Homo sapiens: one gene and its partner. The protein of the gene in region 2 purifies or fractionates together with the protein of the main gene of each other region. This does not show direct contact. Each region holds a gene or a part of one and is shown on either strand. Other genes may lie near its edges.

Region 1 (3,650 bases), on a different chromosome or scaffold from region 2:
GGACATAATTCAGCCCCTAACAGTCAGCAACAGGGAAAGAGGGAGAAAGGAGGTATGACTGTGCTATGGAGAAATGAAAGCAGACACAGCATTTACAGGGGAAAATAAATTTCATGTGTGTTCCCTCATATCTAGAATTCCCTACCTTTCTTTCCCGATCTCTCCATTCTTTGACACAAGCTCCAATCCCGTATCTGTTCTGAAGCCCTGCTAATCGTCTCAGTCCCAATGGTCCCTCTTTCTTATCCCAAATGCAGAGCACTTCCTATCTATCCTACCCATCTGACCCTTCACCCTACGTGGCCCTTGGGGCAGTTCTTGATGCCTTCTACATTATCAAATTTGAGGCCTCATCTTACACCATCCCTGTGGCTTGCCTAGTTCACACTTACCTTCTGTCAGTTCTTCCTAGGAGGCACATCCCTTCCTGTTTAGGTCAGCCCCTTTGAAATATTCTTCGCCTCTGCCCCTTCCCTGCCCAGCCCCCATTCCCTAATTAATATCATTTCACCCTTAAGATCTCAGCTCAGATGCCTCTTCCTCAGGAAGCTTTTGAAGATCACACACACAATTCACCCTCACGCTAAATGCAGGTCTTTCTTCTATCCTCTCCCCTAGCTTTGTGTCTTAGAACTTACTTAATTACATGCCTGCATTGTTATTATTTTCTTAATGTGTCTCTCCCACAAGATGGACTATACATTCAAAACCTAATGTGTCTCTCCCACAAGATGGACTACACATTCAAAAGCTAAGAATGGTTTGTCTACCATTACCTATCCAGCAGCTAGTGTAGTGCCCGGCACCTAATGAGTGCTTAAGAAGTATTTATTAAATAAAGCAACGAATAAACTAAGTATAAATTAGTATAAATCAGGGGGTCTCATGTGATCTATTTTTTGGATGAATAAATTTGCTGTGAAGTAGAGGCATCATGAAATCATTAAGTAATAATATCTAAACAGAAACATGCACAGATATTAAGAGAACTTAATGTTAAGAGATATTAAGAGAACTTAAAAGAATTTTTTTTTGAGATGGAGTTTCGCTCTTTTTGGCCAGACTGGAGTGCAAGGGTGCGATCTCAGCTCACTGTAAACTCTGCCTCCCAGGTTCAAGCGATTCTCCAGCCTTGGCCTCCTGAGTAGCTGGGGTTATAGGCACGTGCCACCACACCCGGCTAATTTTGTATTTTTAGTAAAGACGGGGTTTCACCATGTTGACCATGGTGGTCTGGAACTCTTGACCTCAAGTGATCCACCCACCTCCTCGGCCTCCCAAACTGCTGGGATTATAGGCGTGAGCCACCACACCTGGCCAGCTTAAGAGAATATTAAAGAGAAGTTAATATCTATGCATATTTATGTTTACATATCATTACTTAATGATTCCTTAAATCATTGGAACTGCGCATAAAAAGCAGAAACTATTAGGTCTAAATTCTATAGGAACTACTTAAAAACCATGCTTTCCTTATCTAATTTATATATATGCATTTTAACTTCTGCAGCTACATTTCTTAGGCCATAGACAGGTATCAGCAGTGTCCCTCTCCCTATGGCTCATTCCACTGCTTGACTTTGGCCTAAAACCAACAGGAATTCTTTACTTAGAGGTAAAAAACTGATGGATTCCCATGGTGATTCCAATCCCACACTCTCCTTTTCTCCTTCAAATTAGGCAGGAAACACTAAAATTTTGGGAACAAGATGTGCGTCACACATTGGAAATGTTCAAATCTGTTGATAACATTCAATATACTTTGGCTAAACGCATGAGGAGGCCACATGGTCACAGCCTAACCAAACACAGAACATAACTAATAAACTGAAGCAACATTCCACGTTATCACTTTCAGCTTTGCACAACATATGGAAACAGGCTCACTGCACCACTTGGTTGTGTCAGAACACTTAAGGGAGGAGGATGCACATTTGGGATTTATTACAGTCACTCACCTAAGGGAAGCGTCCAAAGAAGTGCCTTACAATATCCATGTGGCTTCATGTTACAGAATTCTCACTCTTAAAAGGAGTCTTTTCTAGAAATGTATTGACCTTTCAGGTGTTTGAACTATATGTATGGCCCTGACTGTTCTGAATATTTGAAAGCAAAAGGTACTAGTAACTTACTGAGAAAGCTTTTTTTTAAAAAAGGGGGGTGGGGGGCAGGGGATGGGGGAGGGGTAGCAGGGGGAGGGGTCTTGCTATGTTGTCTAGGCTAGACTTGAACTCCTGGGCTCAAGTGATCCTCCGGCCCCAGCCTCTGGAGTAGCTAGGACTGAAGATGCAAGTAGCTAGGGGCTAGAGGCGAGTGCCACAGTACCTGGCTCGAAAAACTATTTTAAACTAGAAAAAAGGCTGTTCTTTTTCTAAGTATTGCATCAATTGCATCAACTCAGACTACTGAATAGGTTTGTTTTTGTCCTCCATCCTCCCCCAGCAAAGTAACAGACATATTTCCTGTTCCATCCACCTCAACTATTTTATCCCAGTTATAAGGCTCAAGTTTAGTTGAGTTTCTTGGCAAGTAATTTTTCTCATGCTAAAGAAGAAACATGAAGTAAATTAGGAAAAGCATATAAACCAGAAAAATAATACTAACATGATCAAAATCTCCAAATAATTTACCTATGAAGTTCAATTTTGGGAGCTTAGCAGTTCAGATAAATGAGAATTACATAGTCAATTTCCATGTTAGCAAGAAAACTTAAAATTCAAAAGACATTAAGTTGAGTGTTTGAGCCTCTCCTTAAATTCCTCTTTATCAGTGAACAAACATTCAATGCATTCCTCACAACAGGTAAGGCAGTGTCAACAACTAAGATACAGTATTCCAGGAAGCCATGCCTTCCCTAGTCTAATTAACAGGGAAACAAAACCTTTCCAAAGATGCAAATCTACACCTTTATTAAGCTAAACAGACCTACATCAGGTGTCTCAGAAATTATCAACTTGATCACTGGTTCTGGGATTAAAATATTCGAGTCCAAATAAGTAAACTCCATAAAATAAAGGAAATCTAAGAAAAGCACTGTAAGCAGATCAGTTTCACAACATGTGGGCTCCAAATAAGGAAAAGAAAACCTCCCTATCCCAGAGTTCTCACTATCTTTAAATAAATAAATATGTCAAAAGAAACCTGACAGCCTTAATGATGAAACTGTTTTCTGATCAGGTTTTCCAGTGATTAAAATGGTCTATATACTTAAATACTTCCTATCATTTACAAAAGATGAGCCTGAGAAAGTAGTAGGAAAACTATTCTGTTAAAACTGCCTGGTATCCACATCTGCGAATTATGGGAACTAATGCTATCCCAATGGGCAGTTCCTGTATTAAATGAAAGACATCACTTTTGAGTGCTTACTGAAGACATTTGAAAAAAATATTCTCATCTAGATTAATTGTTCTTTAAAAGCAGATTTTACCAGTTTGGCCAATAATTTAGAATTCCTTCTTCTTACAAAAATGAAGTTGTTTTAATTACTGATGCTCTTGACTACTTTTTATTTTTGCAAAAATGAGAAAGCACATTTTATCAGGAATCCATCACCTGCAACATAATTTATATTTATTAGAAATACCTATATTTCTAATAAATACAGATTATTTATATATATTTCTAATAAATACAGAAATTTTGTGTGA
Region 2 (3,644 bases):
ACCACACCCCGCTGGGAAATGCTTTTTAAGGTGAAGCCGACAGAAGGGGAGGGAAGGGGCTCACAGCCACCACGGAATCAGGTTTTCCGGGGCAGGAGGGGAGCCGCGATCTCTAGGGACACAGTGTCCCAGACTGTCTTTTTCCTGTTGGAGTAAAATCCATTCTATGTTTAAACAGGGGCTGTGTAAGTGGCTCTTCCAAGTGAAATGCAAACAGGACGCCTTCCTGTTTCTCTAAGGGTTCTGTTCTCCCTTCGGCATTTGTGTCCTCACCCAGGAACTGAAGTGCCGCAGCCCCAACTCACCAGAGCTCCAGCTTCACGCGCCGGCCGTCCAGCAGGATGGTGGTGGTCTTGTAGTCGATCCCTGCGAGGAAGCACAGGGCGCTGAGGGGACGCGCCACTCCTGGAGCGAGCGCCCGCGAGACCAGCCTCGGCCACTGGCCTCCCAGGGCCAAGACCCACGCGGAAGTGGAGAAGCAGCTCCCCCACACTCAGCCAGTGGGGCAGGGGGAAATCTCGGGGCTCTGGCCCAGCAACCCAGGCCTGCCCACTTCTGCACACGGGCCACGGGCAGGGCGGGGCAGGGCAGGGCAGGAGCGTGGTCCATACAGTGTCAGGCCATCGGGCCCCACAGCCTAGCAGGCCAGCCTCTCCATGGGCACGGCTTGCCTGGAATGGGGCCTCCGCCTGTGGCCCGCGCTGGGTGCAAGGCACAGGGCCTCTCCCTCAGAGGGCATTGGGCAAAGGCAGGGCGTGGACTCCAGCGTGCCTGGAGAAAGGGCAGTGCCTTTATTTCCACCCTGACCTACTTCGTATGCATTTTGAAGTTGAATTCTCCAAGGCGAATGTATTTCCAAGTCTCGGCTTACTGCAGCCCAGGAACTGCCAAGGTTGGTGTTAGGGAGGGCCAAACAAGTTTAAAAATGCTGCTTCTGGCCGGGCGCGGTGGCTCACGCCTGTAATCCCAGCACTTTGGGAGGCCGAGGCGGGCGGATCATGAGGTCGGGAGTTTGAGAGCAGCCTGACCAACACAGTGAAACCCCGTCTCTACTAAAAATACAAAAAATTAGCCAGGTGTGGTGGTGGGCACCTTTAATCCCAGCTACTCGGGAGGCTGAGGCAGGAGAATCACTTGAAGCTGGGAGGTGGAGGTTGCAGTGAGCCGAGATCATGTCACTGCACTCCTGCCTGGGTGACAGTACTCAATAAATAAATAAATAAATAAATAAATAAATAAAATGCTGCTTCTCCGGACTCTGGACTGACCTCAGACAGCCACCAGCCTGCCTGCCACATTGGTATTTTTTTTTTTTTTTGAGACAGAGTCTTGCTCAGTCACCCAGGCTGGAGTGCAGTGGTGCGATCTCTGCTCACTGCAAGCTCCGTCTCCCGGGTTCACGCCATTATCTAGCCTCAGCCTGCTGAGTAGCTGAACTACAGGCGCCCGCCACCATGCCCGGATAATTTTTTGTATTTTTAGTAGAGGTGGGGTTTCACCGTGTTAGCCAGGATGGTCTCGATCTCCTGACCTCATGATCCACCCGCCTCAGCCTCCCAAAGTGCTAGGATTACAGGCGTGAGCCACTGCACCCGGCCTTTTTTTCTTTTTTGAGATGGAGTCTCACTCTGTCGCCCAGGCTGCAGTGCAGTGCCACAATCTCGGGTCACTACAACCTCCACCTCCCGGGTTCAAGCGATTCTCCTGCCTCAGCCTCCCAAGTAGCTGGGATTACAGGTGCCCACCACCACAGCCGGCTAATTTTTATAATTTTAGTAGAGACGGGGTTTTGCCACGTTGGCTAAGCTGGTCACAAATTCCTGACCTCAGGTGATTCGCCCGCCTTGGCCTCCCAAAGTGCTGGGATTACAGGTGTGAGCCACCGTGCCCGGCCCACATCACATCATTACTTTTTATTTCCTTACAGTTTTATAGGAAAAGGTCAGTCCAAGAGAAACTGAAAGGAGCAGACAGTTCTGGACACTTAACGCAGGCACGACATCTTAAACAGGCTCTGGGCCCTCTGGAAACTTTCCAGAAGCTTCTACCTTTAGGGCTCAGCCCCTTCCCCCACCTTAGAAACACCATTCACGTTTTGTCTTTTTATGACACTTTCTCCAAGGGGCTTGGAAACGGGCACTTTTTAAACATAAGCGACGCCCTCCCACGGAGTGCACCTGCCCAGTGGGCTTGTGTGTGTGTCTGTGCACATCTGTCTCTCCGTGCGGGCCCAGCCCTGCAAGCCAGCCATGCGGTCTCTCTGCCTACGGTGCCCTTCTTCAGGCATCAGCGCTTCCACCCACACCGTCCTTCTGCCTGACCAACCCCTACATGTACATCAAAGGCTGTTCTCATGCATCGAAGGACACCATCAATGGACAGAAAAATGCAACCCAGAGATGGAGGGAAATGTCTGCAGATCACACGTCTCCTAGAGACTGATCTCTAGACTCTACAAATAACTCCAACTCAACAACAGAAAACCAAACGTCCCAATTTTAGGATGGACGGATGGTCTCCCTCGGGTCCTCGTTTCCAAGACAAGAAGGAACAATGGTTGTGCCAAAAGGGCCACGGCTGTGAGCAGCCCATGACTGCAGGAGCTGCACCCAATGTGTACCCAGGGACAACGCCATTAAGCAGTTCATCAGGATGCGGTAGAGTTAGGCAGTTCACTATCGGGACGAGGTAAAGTTTGGCAGTTCACCATCGGGATGCGGCTGAGTTAGCAGTTCACCACTGGGACGAGGTAGAGTTTGGCAGTTCACCGTCGGGACGAGGTAGAGTTTGGCAGTTCACCGTCGGGATGCGGCAGAGTTAGCAGTTCACCATCAGGATGTGGTAGAGTTAGGCAGTTCACCATTGGGACGAGGTAGAGTTAGGCAGTTCACCATCGGGACGAGGTAAAGTTTGGCAGTTCACCATCGGGATACGGCAGAGTTAGCAGTTCACCATCGGGATGTGGTAGAGTTAGGCAGTTCACCATCGGGATGCGGTAGAGTTAGGCAGTTCACCATCGGGACGAGGTTTAGGCAGTTCACCATCGGGACGAGGTAAAGTTTGGCAGTTCACCATCGGGATGCGGCAGAGTTAGCAGTTCACCATCGGGATGTGGTAGAGTTAGGCAGTTCACCATCGGGATGCGGTAGAGTTAGGCAGTTCACCATCGGGACGAGGTTTAGGCAGTTCACCATCGGGACGAGGTAAAGTTTGGCAGTTCACCATCGGGATGCGGCAGAGTTAGCAGTTCACCATCGGGATGTGGCAGAGTTAGCAGTTCACCATCGGGATGTGGTAGAGTTAGGCAGTTCACCATCGGGACGAGGTAGAGTTAGGCAGTTCACCATCGGGATGCGGCAGAGTTAGCAGTTCACCATAGGGATGCGGTAGAGTTCGGCAGTTCACCATCGGGATGCGGTAGTTAGCAGTTCACCATCGGGATGCGGTAGAGTTTGGCAGTTCACCATCGGGATGCGGTAGAGTTCGGCAGTTCACCATCGGGATACGGCAGAGTTAGCAGTTCACCATCGGGACGCGGTAGAGTTAGGCAGTTCACCATCTGGATGCAGTAGAGGCCGCAGCCTTGCAGACATTTTGGAAGCATCTGCGCCGACTGTGTGCTTCCCGAGCTGCGTGTGAAGCTG

Evidence for each region. The genes of interacting proteins can lie anywhere in the genome.
Region 1: the proteins of RAB40C (region 2) and SH3RF1 purify together in Homo sapiens (affinity purification with mass spectrometry, with the first as the bait; one large-scale study listed by BioGRID). This does not show direct contact.

What each region holds. Positions count from the first base shown.
Region 1 is NC_000004.12:169,264,457-169,268,106, forward strand, and holds part of SH3RF1 (E3 ubiquitin-protein ligase SH3RF1), read right to left. Parts: intron 1-3,650. UniProt on the Homo sapiens protein: Has E3 ubiquitin-protein ligase activity. In the absence of an external substrate, it can catalyze self-ubiquitination. Stimulates ubiquitination of potassium channel KCNJ1, enhancing it's dynamin-dependent and clathrin-independent endocytosis.
Region 2 is NC_000016.10:613,930-617,573, reverse strand, and holds part of RAB40C (ras-related protein Rab-40C), read right to left. Parts: exon of another isoform or gene 1,310-3,644; intron 367-1,309; coding exon 306-366; intron 1-305. UniProt on the Homo sapiens protein: RAB40C small GTPase acts as substrate-recognition component of the ECS(RAB40C) E3 ubiquitin ligase complex which mediates the ubiquitination and subsequent proteasomal degradation of target proteins.